Linked DNA regions of Homo sapiens. The protein of the gene in region 1 purifies or fractionates together with the protein of each later gene. This does not show direct contact. Each region holds a gene or a part of one and is shown on either strand. Other genes may lie near its edges.

The links.
Region 2: the proteins of ZNF202 (region 1) and ZMYM3 purify together in Homo sapiens (affinity purification with mass spectrometry; 2 studies listed by BioGRID and IntAct, with this or other methods). This does not show direct contact.

The regions. Positions count from the first base shown.
Region 1 is NC_000011.10:123,724,621-123,731,905, reverse strand, and holds part of ZNF202 (zinc finger protein 202), read left to right. Parts: intron 1-234; exon of another isoform or gene 235-507; intron 508-920; 5' UTR 921-1,017; coding exon 1,018-1,419; intron 1,420-2,080; coding exon 2,081-2,291; intron 2,292-2,691; coding exon 2,692-2,780; intron 2,781-3,643; coding exon 3,644-3,773; intron 3,774-4,310; coding exon 4,311-4,430; intron 4,431-4,914; coding exon 4,915-5,909; 3' UTR 5,910-7,285. UniProt on the Homo sapiens protein: Transcriptional repressor that binds to elements found predominantly in genes that participate in lipid metabolism.
Region 2 is NC_000023.11:71,238,856-71,244,157, forward strand, and holds the end of ZMYM3 (zinc finger MYM-type protein 3), read right to left. Parts: intron 5,126-5,302; coding exon 4,974-5,125; intron 4,230-4,973; coding exon 4,115-4,229; intron 3,570-4,114; coding exon 3,315-3,569; intron 2,490-3,314; coding exon 2,372-2,489; intron 2,254-2,371; coding exon 2,061-2,253; 3' UTR 769-2,060; downstream 1-768. UniProt on the Homo sapiens protein: Plays a role in the regulation of cell morphology and cytoskeletal organization.

The DNA.
Region 1 (7,285 bases):
AAGAGCTTCGTGTCATTCCCAGGATTTTGGAACTGATTTTACTAACATGAAAAAGGTTTTGTTTTAAAATACTGAGTAATATAGTTGGAACTATAATTTAGAAAGATAATAGCTGGTGCCATCACTCTTCTAAGCAAAGATAGTAATACATTTAATGCTCATAGGCTTTAGTAATACATTTAATCCTTACAGTAAGCCTATTAGATAAAAACCATTATTATCTCCCTTCTATAGACAGAGAAACTGGCATTAGGAGAATGAGAACTTGCCTATGGTCCCACTCTGGAAATACCTAGTAAGCGACAGAGCCAGGATTCAAACCCAGGCAGCTTGACTCCAGAACTTTCGCTCATAACCTTACACATCTCCCTCATGGTTGGTGTTTCTCAACCATGGATACACATTCGAACTGCAAGTAGCATCTCTAAACATACAGTTACCTGAATTGACTGAATCAGAGTGTCTGAAAAATGATGTGTGATACTATGTTTTGCAAAATCTCCACAGGTAATTCTGTTGTACTTTGCTTATAGTTGAGTACTGCAGGGATCTTAGGAAGTTAGAGCAGTAGTCCAGGCAGGAGATGATGAAGGCTCAAACTAAAGCAGTCTGTAGGAAGGAAGAGAAGGGAACCGGTTTGGAGACTTAAGCGGGGGAATTGGCAGTATTTGTGAAGTGGAAATGCAGTATTTTCTTGCAGAGTATGAACCTTGCCTAGGAAAGGGAGTAGAGGACCATACCTTTAGTTGTAAATTATCCTCTCCCAACTGGATCTGTTGATTTATGGCTATGGTGGTTGGGGAAAAGAGGATTTAACCATTTGAAGAAGTTTGTGTAGAGGATTATGATTGAACTCAGGCTGTTGTCCTTGTGTATAGTTTCATGCTTATACTCTTGTTTGTCTTTACTTCTCTATCCAGGGCCCTTGGAAGAAAATCCTCGCTGTGTCCAGGCTGAGGCGGGGGGCTAATGACAGTGTGAGCTCTAGATGGTGTGAGACCACCCCAAAGCCAAGAAATGGCTACAGCCGTGGAACCAGAGGACCAGGATCTTTGGGAAGAAGAGGGAATTCTGATGGTGAAACTGGAAGATGATTTCACCTGTCGGCCAGAGTCTGTCTTACAGAGGGATGACCCGGTGCTGGAAACCTCCCACCAGAACTTCCGACGCTTCCGCTACCAGGAGGCAGCAAGCCCTAGAGAAGCTCTCATCAGACTCCGAGAACTTTGTCACCAGTGGCTGAGACCAGAGAGGCGGACAAAGGAGCAGATCCTAGAGCTGCTTGTGCTGGAACAATTTCTTACCGTCCTACCTGGAGAACTACAGAGCTGGGTGCGGGGCCAACGGCCAGAAAGTGGCGAGGAGGCAGTGACGCTGGTGGAGGGTTTGCAGAAACAACCCAGGAGACCAAGGCGGTGGGTGAGGAGGGGGAGTCCTGATCTGTGTGATGTGGAGGGGGACTATTTGCTGGAAGGCTGGATTTGCGGGGAGAGCTTGCAGGATCCCCATAAATTATTAGTGGGCTCTGCCCTTGGGTTGCTCATATACCATGAGCCCCATGGATTAGGGGGATGTGTGTGTATGAATGTGACTTTCTGGATATTGGAACACCTGTATAGGGACCATCTGAGGGGTCTCAGCCACCAAAGGGTCATGGCTTTGGTTTTCCCTTCTTTGAATGTTGAGCCGTGGGTTCCTGGAGAGGAGAATTTTGTGACTTCCTCGAAGGTTCTCATAGATCCCCAGTCACAGATCCCCCTTCCTGGCTGGTCAGCTAGGGAAGCAGGCAGCAAGGAGAGCTGCAGGTGGGACAGGTGGAGATGGGAAGGAACCTTGGGTGACAGGGGCCCAGGCTGGGGGTGGTGAGAGAGCAGTGCAGGCCTGCGCATCCCCTGCCTTGTCCTGGGGAGGATAACCTTCAGCTCCTCCTTGCCTGCTCCATTGAAACTGGAGTTTCCCCTCCTTGTCTGGGTCCCTCTGGGAGTGTTTTCTCTAGGCATCTTCTCCTAAAATAAGCTCCCGTGACAACCAAGAACTTCCTCCTGACTCCATGGTGACTGGAAGTTGGAATTATTCCCAGGTGACTGTCCATGTTCACGGCCAGGAAGTCCTGTCAGAGGAGACGGTGCATTTAGGAGTGGAGCCTGAGTCACCTAATGAGCTGCAGGATCCTGTGCAAAGCTCGACCCCCGAGCAGTCTCCTGAGGAAACCACACAGAGCCCAGATCTGGGGGCACCGGCAGAGCAGCGTCCACACCAGGAAGAGGAGCTCCAGACCCTGCAGGAGAGCGGTGGGAAGCATCAGCAGAAAGGGGGGATTGTGGCAGAAGGCAGGCAAGGAGGGGGACATTTCTCGGACATTTCTCCTATACCAAGGAAGCTGGGTAGATAGACTGTATGGAAAGACATCACAGAATCCAGGATGTCAAGAGGAGACAGTACCGCCAGCTAGAGTCCCCCATAAACAGGGCCAAGCTTAGACAGCAGATTGTTGCTTGTTCTCTTGGCATTCTGATAGTCTCATAGGTGATGGGATTGGGATATGGGAGCTACCCTTAGGCCAGTTTCTTGGTTCCCATAATAGAAAGGATAGGGCCACCTTCCTACCAAAGATGGTGGGGGATGCCCAGATTTTTGCCCATTATTGGGGCATGCTGCATATTACTGATCTTTGCCTTCTTTTCTTCATAGAGGTCCCAGTGCCCGAGGACCCAGACCTTCCTGCAGAGAGGAGCTCTGGAGACTCAGAGATGGTTGCTCTTCTTACTGCTCTGTCACAGGTGTGCCCTAGTTACCTCTGTACCACAGAGAATTTGTTTGAAGAACCACTGGGCATAAGCCATACTAAACAGGTGAAGCAGGATGCACATTTACACTCTTGCCAGTTTTAAGCTCACAGTTCTGCAGGTACCTGGAAGGGGAGGAGATAATGAGATAAATTATCATACCTTATATTGGATCCACAGGCACCAACACCAGTTTATTTGCCATTGACTAGAAGAACTAACAAAATGGGATTATTTTGTAACACTCCAGTACAACTGCGAAGTTGTCAAATGAGGGTTTTTTAGTTTTTTTTTTTTTTAAAGGAATAAATTTGATAGTCATTTGTAAGTATGACAGACTGTACTGCTGAGACATTTAGGAAGTATTCACCATGATCAAAGCTCTGAAACTAAGCCATGTGGCTGGAGAAAAAGAAATAGAATTCATGTATGGTTTTAGATTGTAATCTAACTGAGGAAAAAAGTCTTGTTTTGGCTATAGAGTATAGAAACTATTGAAAGTGATTAGAGTCTTTAGGGAAAGTGTACTAGAAAAGATGAATTTTGCAGAAATGTATATAGCGTTAAAGTGTCAAGTAGGGAGCTGAATGATGATTTTTAAGACCTTTCCTAAATTTTAAACAATACCTTAAAGAAGAAGAACATAAGCTGGTCCTCAGGAAAAGTGGTGGAGTTGGAGGGGGCAGGGCCAGTGCCACAGGGGACACATGGCTCCCCCGAGAATGAGTTTAAGCAGCCCGCCACTCAAGCTCCTTTCATCTCCTAGAGGAGTCCACCTATTGTATGACCTTCAACAGGGACAAAATACGAGGCTACCCGTAGCATCACGTTTTGATGAAATCCTTATGTGGTTTCAGGGACTGGTAACGTTCAAGGATGTGGCCGTATGCTTTTCCCAGGACCAGTGGAGTGATCTGGACCCAACACAGAAAGAGTTCTATGGAGAATATGTCTTGGAAGAAGACTGTGGAATTGTTGTCTCTCTGTGTAAGGAATTTCAAGTATTCTAGAGTGTTCTAAGCCCAGAGATCTTTTTCCTGCTGGAAATTTTGGGGGATCTTAGACCTTAGATTGTATGCAGTGAACTTCTCTTATGCCTTCCCCACCAATAAAATTGAGGGATTAGGTGAAAAATATGGTGTCCTTTCAAGTAAAAGATAAATGGATGGAAATGGAAACCTCTAATAGGAAAACAAACTTGTAATATGACAGCTTTAGTGCAGAAATATTTGAAGTAAGCACATGAGTTTTAAAACAGTAAGAGTTGGAGATAATCTTTCTTGAATATGGGAAAAGAGGATAAGGTGTACAATGGTATAATTATTAAGTTGCAGGTGAAAACCACAAGAAAGGCAAGAGATACGCAGTCCTTGGTTAAAAGTACACAAACTAAAGAGATGAAAGATTTCATCACCTGAGCTAGCTATGTATTTGCCCCACAACCTACCAAATAGAAAAGGACCGCTCTTAACACAGGGAATTGTTGAGCCAATCGTGATATCCTATTTTCCCTCTCTTGAGCAGCATTTCCAATCCCCAGACCTGATGAGATCTCCCAGGTTAGAGAGGAAGAGCCTTGGGTCCCAGATATCCAAGAGCCTCAGGAGACTCAAGAGCCAGAAATCCTGAGTTTTACCTACACAGGTGAGGAATGACAAAAACGGTGTTACCCACCCTGAGCCAGCAGTTCCTCTAGGCAGTGCTTCTCTCTCTCTGTAGGGCCCCGCTCTCATCAGTTCTTCTAACATGTCAGCCAGTACTGCTTTCTCCCTCTGACAGCCATTTCTTCTGTCATTGCCCTCCTCTTTTCTCCTCCCATCATTTGTCTGATAGCAATGTAATACAAAAGGGTGAAAGAAAAATGTTAACTTTTGGAATTGCAGCTATACCATTTACTGTACAATTCCCTTAAACCCTCGATTCTCAATCTCTGCATTTGTAAAATGAAGATTATATTTGTGCATACCAAGGTTTGTTGATAGCATAACAATATGAGAAAGTGCTTGGCACAGGACAGGCATTCTATTTAGTCTTGCCATCTCAAAACCCTTTGTAAAAATCTCCCCATTGTGTAGAAGGCATTGTTGCCGCTACAGTGACCCCCTTTTTCCTCTCACCCTTTCTACAGGAGATAGGAGTAAAGATGAGGAAGAGTGTCTGGAGCAGGAAGATCTGAGTTTGGAGGATATACACAGGCCTGTTTTGGGAGAACCAGAAATTCACCAGACTCCAGATTGGGAAATAGTCTTTGAGGACAATCCAGGTAGACTTAATGAAAGAAGATTTGGTACTAATATTTCTCAAGTGAATAGTTTTGTGAACCTTCGGGAAACTACACCCGTCCACCCCCTGTTAGGGAGGCATCATGACTGTTCTGTGTGTGGAAAGAGCTTCACTTGTAACTCCCACCTTGTTAGACACCTGAGGACTCACACAGGAGAGAAACCCTATAAATGTATGGAATGTGGAAAAAGTTACACACGAAGCTCACATCTTGCCAGGCACCAAAAGGTTCACAAGATGAACGCGCCTTACAAATATCCCCTAAACCGGAAGAATTTGGAAGAGACCTCCCCTGTGACACAGGCTGAGAGAACTCCATCAGTGGAGAAACCCTATAGATGTGATGATTGCGGAAAGCACTTCCGCTGGACTTCAGACCTTGTCAGACATCAGAGGACACATACTGGAGAAAAACCCTTCTTTTGTACTATTTGTGGCAAAAGCTTCAGCCAGAAATCTGTGTTAACAACACACCAAAGAATCCACCTGGGAGGCAAACCCTACTTGTGTGGAGAGTGTGGTGAGGACTTCAGTGAACACAGGCGGTACCTGGCGCACCGGAAGACGCACGCTGCTGAGGAACTCTACCTCTGCAGCGAGTGCGGGCGCTGCTTCACCCACAGCGCAGCGTTCGCCAAGCACTTGAGAGGACACGCCTCAGTGAGGCCCTGCCGATGCAACGAATGTGGGAAGAGCTTCAGTCGCAGGGACCACCTCGTCAGGCATCAGAGAACACACACTGGGGAGAAACCATTCACGTGCCCTACCTGTGGAAAAAGCTTCAGCAGAGGATATCACTTAATTAGGCATCAGAGGACCCACTCAGAAAAGACCTCCTAGCTAGGTCCCCATGTGAGGAGATCTGCTTTCAGCCCTCACCTAAGGGAGGTGAGGAAGAGGAAAAGCCCTCTTGTCAGCCTGGGAAGACCTTTTCGAGGGAGTCTCCCTGACCTGCTCAGATCTGACATTACCTCTTCCTGCAACTAAACACGAGCCTGGGCAGAACCTCTCAGCCTTCCTCTACGCCTTGAGGGGATGTTTCATCCAAAGTACAACCTGAATTGAGGCTTCTCCTTCACTGGAGTGCACCTGCCTCTACCTCATGGGTATAAAGTAGGAGAACTAAGAGACTTAAGAGGTCGTGGTTCCTATATCGTCCAAAAAATAGGCTGTTACATATCCTAAAGACTGCTCAACAGCTTCAAGTTGAAAGTGGCCAAGGACAGCCCCTTAGGTTTGGGAAGGGACGAGCCTGAAGGATTCTGTCTTTACTGGGGTCAAATCTTAAAGCACACAGCTCTGGACTCAAGACAGGAGGTTTGCGTCCTGATGGCTTTGCCACACATTCACAGGATAACTGCATAGATCCCTCGCTGTCTGATTCACTTCTTACCATGCACTTTCCTTTGATGCTGAGGAGAAATGGAAGTGGGCGAAAAATCTCAAGGCTGCTTCATGTGGACCTTGTCAAGCTGCTCCCTCCCCCAGCGTCAAATTGTTATCAGGTGCCAAACACTGCTAGAAAGGAGGGCCTAGTCAGAAGCCTCTTTCCATACGAGTTTTGGTTTTGTTTTTAATATTTTTTTCTATTAAAATACTCATGCATTTAACCTTCCCGTTATTCAACCAGTCTCTTGGTTGCATCCCTAGCACTTCTACTACAAGTGAGATGGTAGTGTTTGAGTGCTTATTGAGTAAAGCATAATTCGGTCATAATGAAATCGTTCACATTCCCTCATATGCACAAGCCCACCAACCCCTTCACACCCCCCTTCACAGGGGTCGTATGAGTAAGGGGATTTGGAAACTGTCAACTTACAAAGGCACTATAACAATTACAGAATCATGATTGCCATGGGCCACTTTATTTACATGAAGACAACTGGAGAACGACTAAGACCAAATTATGGAAAATAAGAAAAAGCTGTTGCTGGCAAGACCATCAAGACTGTTCTGACACCCTGTCCCCATCATCCCTGACTGAGTACTCTGACATCACGGAAAGTGTTGAACCTGGGACCCTGAGGAATTCACCAGGAGTAAATGGCTTTCATGTATTTGTGTTGTTTGCTTTTTCTTACGTGATTTTATGTTCATAGAGCTAGAAAGTAGCATCTCATGATGGCCCAACAATCTCTGTTGCCAGTTAAAGGTTCCTTGGAGATGAGGCTGAATAATTATGAACCTCACCTTCTCTGATTGTGGGAGTGGCAAGA
Region 2 (5,302 bases), on another chromosome or scaffold:
CCTTGGTAAACCCTCACATAGCCTCCCTATAAACGTGTGTTGTCTGTTTTCTAGACAAAGTTTCACTCTGTCACCCAGAATGGGTGCGGTGGGGTGGTCTGGGCTCATTGCAACCTCGCCTCCCAGGCTCAAACGATCCTCCTCAGCCTCAGCTTCCTCAATAGCTGTGATTACTGGTGTGCGTCACCATGCCCAGTTAATTCTTGTATTTTTGTTAGAGATGGGGTTTTGCCATGTTGCCCAGGCTAGTCTTGAACTCCTGGGTTCAAGGAATCCTCCCACCTTGGCCTCCCAAAGTACTGGGATTACAGACGCAAGCCACTGCACCCAGCCTCCCTGTAAACCTGAAGTGAGTTATTTATTCCTCTGTCCTCCCATAGCACTATTCATTTTATTCTGCCTGTATTATGACTAATTGTGTACTATTTGGTCTCCCCTATAGCCTGGGAGCCTGCTGGGGATTGGATCCTGGTCTAACCAGTCTTTTTGTATTTTTTGAAGCACGTAATCTAGGTCTTTAAACATAATAGGTCCTTAATACATAGCTAGTGAGTGAGTATTTTTTTTTCCTTAAGTGTTTGGAAACTTGTTATAAAAAAAAAACAAAAACAAAAACAAAAAAAACAAAAAAAACACCACATTCCCAGTAGATCCAAAGTAAGACAGTAAAGTAAGAACGATTCTCAAACACCTGACTTGTTTACACTTGGAGAGATTTGAAGTTATCCAGTGTTGCTCCTCTATATCCATCACCCAGAAAAGACAAAAGACAATTTTAACTCTTTATTTGAAACAAACAATTTCAGAGACAGAAGGTTAGTCGTGACAACAGCTTCTCACTACAACACAAGGGTGGGCATGGCTCACTGAAGGGACAGGCCAGGCGCCTCAGAACAATATATACAATTTAAACAGTGGCTAACTGGTGACAGTTATAAAAACACAAAAAGGAGCCTGGGAAACAGCAAAGTCAACAGGGAAAGAAGTGGGTACCCCCTTTGCCAGAAGCTAATTGTTTTCTGGGACCTCCAATGCAAGATGGGGAAGAGAGAAGATGTAGGCAGTGGCGGCAGGCCCTGCGCCCACAGCTCCTCGCCTGTCCTTTGACCACAGATCCCATCCTGCATGACTCAAGGTCCCATAGGCTTGGCCTAGCTCTTATGATAGGGGAACAATAGAGGGGAACCCAGCCTCAACCCAAGTCAGAAGGTAGTTTTTGCCTTGGGAGGTCTGTCCATTGAACTAAAGGGAGGCAGTTACAGAGGGGGCTAAGCATGTTGACACCATGGCTCATGGCAACCTAAGATGGCAGAGAGACAAACACAGAAACCAAGGGGACAGGAGTCTGCACAACAGGAGTCTGCTCCCCGTACTTAGTCATTCTCTGCCTCTGAGGAAAAAAAGGCATTTGGAAGATTTTAAAAACGGCAGCACCAAGGATTGGTGCTTGCCGAGGGGGTGAGGGATATGCGGTGGTGAGATGGTGCCAACAACCAATTATTTCATAGGAGGGGAAGAGTGTCTAAGCTCTGTGTTTTATGTAAATGGTCCCCTCATCGCTTTCATTGTTTATTTCTTACCTTTCAGATAAGACCTTTTGGCATGGTGCTGGGGAAGAGTAGAGAAGGGAGTGGGCACAGGGCAGAGAAGGCAGCTGGGTTTTTCCCTAGGTCATGCCTAGGAACAAGAGGCTCTACCTATGCGGGATGGGTCAGGAAACCCAAAGCCAACAGGATCACCAGAGCTATTAACACTCCACCCAGAGTCTGGACCCAGAAGGAGGGGTTTACTCTGAAGCATAAAGAAAACGGGCAAGCTGGCTTTTGCCCATCACTGGGAGACCAGCCCCTGAGTACAGAAGACCAGGGCCCCATGGTTGTCAAGTGGTACGGAAGAAGATAAAAGCCAGGGTTCCTAGAGAAGGCAGGGAATGGGTGAGCGGAAAGGAGCAGTCAGGGCCCTTCAGAATGAGTAGCATTGGTTCCTGGGCCTGTCACCCTGAGGGACATGGCCACAGGACAGACATTGATGTGAAAGATGGATATGGATGGCACACGAGCTCAGTCCAGGTCTTCCTCCCCAGGACGACCCAGTTCCTCATAAATCTCGCGCACAGCCAGGATGCGATTGAGCATGCTCTCCAACATGCTGCGGTCCATGGGGATCACAGAATACCAGAGAGGTGACTCGGCGATGCAGGACCGTTCAGGTTGCAGGTAGAACACATCGTTGCGAGTCCGGAGGCTTTCAGGACTGCAACATCGGGGGTGGGAGTGGGAGTGGGGGTGGCAGGACAGAAGATCAGTACCAAGGCAAAGTAGATCCCTCGGGTCCCCATGCTAACGCTTTTCCTGCCAACCCACCAACTCACCATTTTGAGAGATAGAATTCATAGAACTTGACAGGGCAGCGGAGGGGATTCATGCGGTTCTCACGCTGCTCTAAGATAGGGGCTTCATCTTCTCTCTTCCGTTTTCCAGGACCCGTGTCTATAGGGGAGGGAAATGATTCAGACTCATTAAGAACACAGGCTCCATGAGCCACATCCAAGAGCACAGTTCAGGGCACAGGGAGAAGGCGTCACGACACAAATTACAGTCTCATCAAGATGGAGAGGTGGAAGAAGAGGTCAGTCTCCCTCTCCCACGCCAACCCAACATCCTGTCGGGCTGTTGTTATGCAACCCTCCCCAGTTCCCACTGCCAAAGACTCTCTTTAAAATCTCCCCCAAGTTGCTATCTTGAAGAGGTGATCTCAGAAGTTATTCAAAAGACCTGATAAAACAGACCCTACTGCAAGGGTGGGCTTGCCTTCTGGGATAGAGAAACAGCAATGACCCCAACCCCTTGTGCATTAGTCCAGGTAGAAGCATGGGTCCAGAGAAAGGACCTTGGAAACTTCACTCAGACAGGACAGAAGTCCAGGGACAGAAAAAATGGAAACCAAGGTGCAGTTGTTGTTAGACCCGATAGCAAAGAATCACAGAAAGCCTGTCATTCTACCCTCCCCGACAGCCAAACACACCCAATGGTTTCCTACCTGTCCACCACCCAGAAAAAGCAGGCAAGCAAGTAAACTGTCTTAAATGAGGAAAGAGGGGAAACAGGCCAGAGGGTGACCTCTTATTTATGCAACAGCTACTGCCTATCAGGTAGGAGGACTGGCTGTTTCTACCCTTTCTGCACACAGGAACAGGAGAGGGAAGCTAGGCGCCAAGGAGAGGGCCGACCTGGCAGGTATGGTGGGTTATGGCAGGGCATGGAAGGGGAAGGCAGAGAAGGGGCAAAAGCACAGGGGAGGGGGCAGCCTCGTACCTCGCCCTTTCCTCTGGCGGACTGGGGCATAGTAGCGGATGCTCACCACCTTGGTGGTGCCCCGAGGGGTGGTACACTTGCGGGACTGCCGCACCACATTGGTGAAGGAGAGTTGCATGTGTTCCTCAGCTGTCTGCAGCCCAAAAAACTTAGTGTTGAAGAACATGAGGGTGTTGAGGAGGACAAAGGGCGAGTAGACCCCCAGTTGCTTACACTCCCAGAGGTGCTCCTCCTCCACTCGAGAGAACACCGTATCTACAATGGTCAAGGGGGAGAGGCCAGTCAGGAGGGAGTGGCTACCCAAACCCAACCACTTCCCATCCCATGTGCCCTGCTCATTTCCCACACAATTCTCATTTGGTGAGTAACCTTTGTATATAAAACACTGTCACTTCGCTACACTTGCTACACTACACAGTGGGACTGGGCTTTAAAAAATATATACTTTCCACACCTGCATTTGGAACGCCTCTCACCACCCTCAAGTTGTAGACAAGTAAATGTAAACCTTGAGGAGTCCCACGATTTCTTGCTTTCTTTCTTTACTTACCACCCAAACCCAGGCCATCTTTTTCTGGTCCTAGAGATAGCTCTTCAGACCTAAGTCTTGATCCCCATCTCACGTTCAAGAACAGGCGCTCCTGTGCTCCTTTAACTCTAAACCCTGAGGCATCCAGCTACACGCTCCTGCCCTCGGGCCCTTTGTGAAGAGTGGCAGACCAAACAGCACAGGACTCTCGGGATGGTGGATTGGAAGAATGGAGAAAGCGGGTAGGGGTTGCTACGTCCCTGTTCCTTACTGTTGGGGAGGAGTGTGGGCTGCCAGGTACTCAGAGACTTGTTGAGTTCTTGAACAAAAGTCAGGTAGTAAAGGTCCGTGAAAATGTTCACCATCCGGTTATTTTCCAGCAAGTACTGGGGAAAGAAAAACAGACACACCTAAGGCTAGACTGTAGGTCCTAGAAGAAAGATAATGATGCTGAAGCCCCCAGGTATGGTGTCCTTGATCATTAGGAGACGATGGGAAACAGTTGCTTGATTAGGTGGCCTCGAGTGCTTTCCCCCAGGTATACCCACAGCTCTGCGCTACTCAGGCTTTGCTCGAAGAGGAGGAGGCTTGGAGGAGATGTTCTTTAGAAGCCCACACCTCCTTCTCAGGTAATACATGGTTGACTTCTCCCAGGGGGAACTAAACATTACCCCAGCACTCAAGGATCCCAGCTCCACCCATCCCTCCCCTCCTAGAATGGGCTTAAAGATTACAAAGGGGACCTGGATAGCAATGAAGACTGCTCCTTGGCCAACGGTCCTGGAATGCAGTTTTGATTTTAGAAGAGTATTGATATCTCATGTTCTATTTGGAGTAGGAGATTAAAGGCAAGCTGCCTGCTTCAGGTAGGGGACAAGATGAGGAACAGGGAGTGCAACAGAATAACTGCTTTTTTTTTTCATTAAAAAAATATTTTTTGGGTAGATGGGTATCACTTTGTTGCCCAGGCTGGTCTCAAACTCCTGGCTTGAAGCGATCCTCCTGCCTCAGCCTCCCAAAGTGTTGGGATTACAGGCGTGAGCCACCGTGCCTAACCCAGAATCATTTCTGTTTAGACCCTGCCTGCTGTGTTAAGAGTGACAGGAAGTGAGGTGGTGCACAAGAGGTACCTGCTGGATGCCAAGACACAAATAGTAGATACTGTCAGGTTCATATCGTTCACCATTGGGCCGAGTGATTTCTCTCACAAACTGGGCCAGACCGTAGTTGAGCTCAGCAGCTGAGCAGGCGAGAATATCCTCTTTGATACGCATGGGTTTGGCTGCAGTGATATGTTGTGCAGGGACAGGATTAAGAAAAACTCTACATGGAGAATTTCACTTAGCTCCATCACCATTAACCCCTCCATCCCTTAGTCATGCCTAGCTCCTGAACAATTACAGAAAGAGCCCCTAACCTGGAACCTAGACAGCATTTCCCTTTAATCTACAACTCCTCC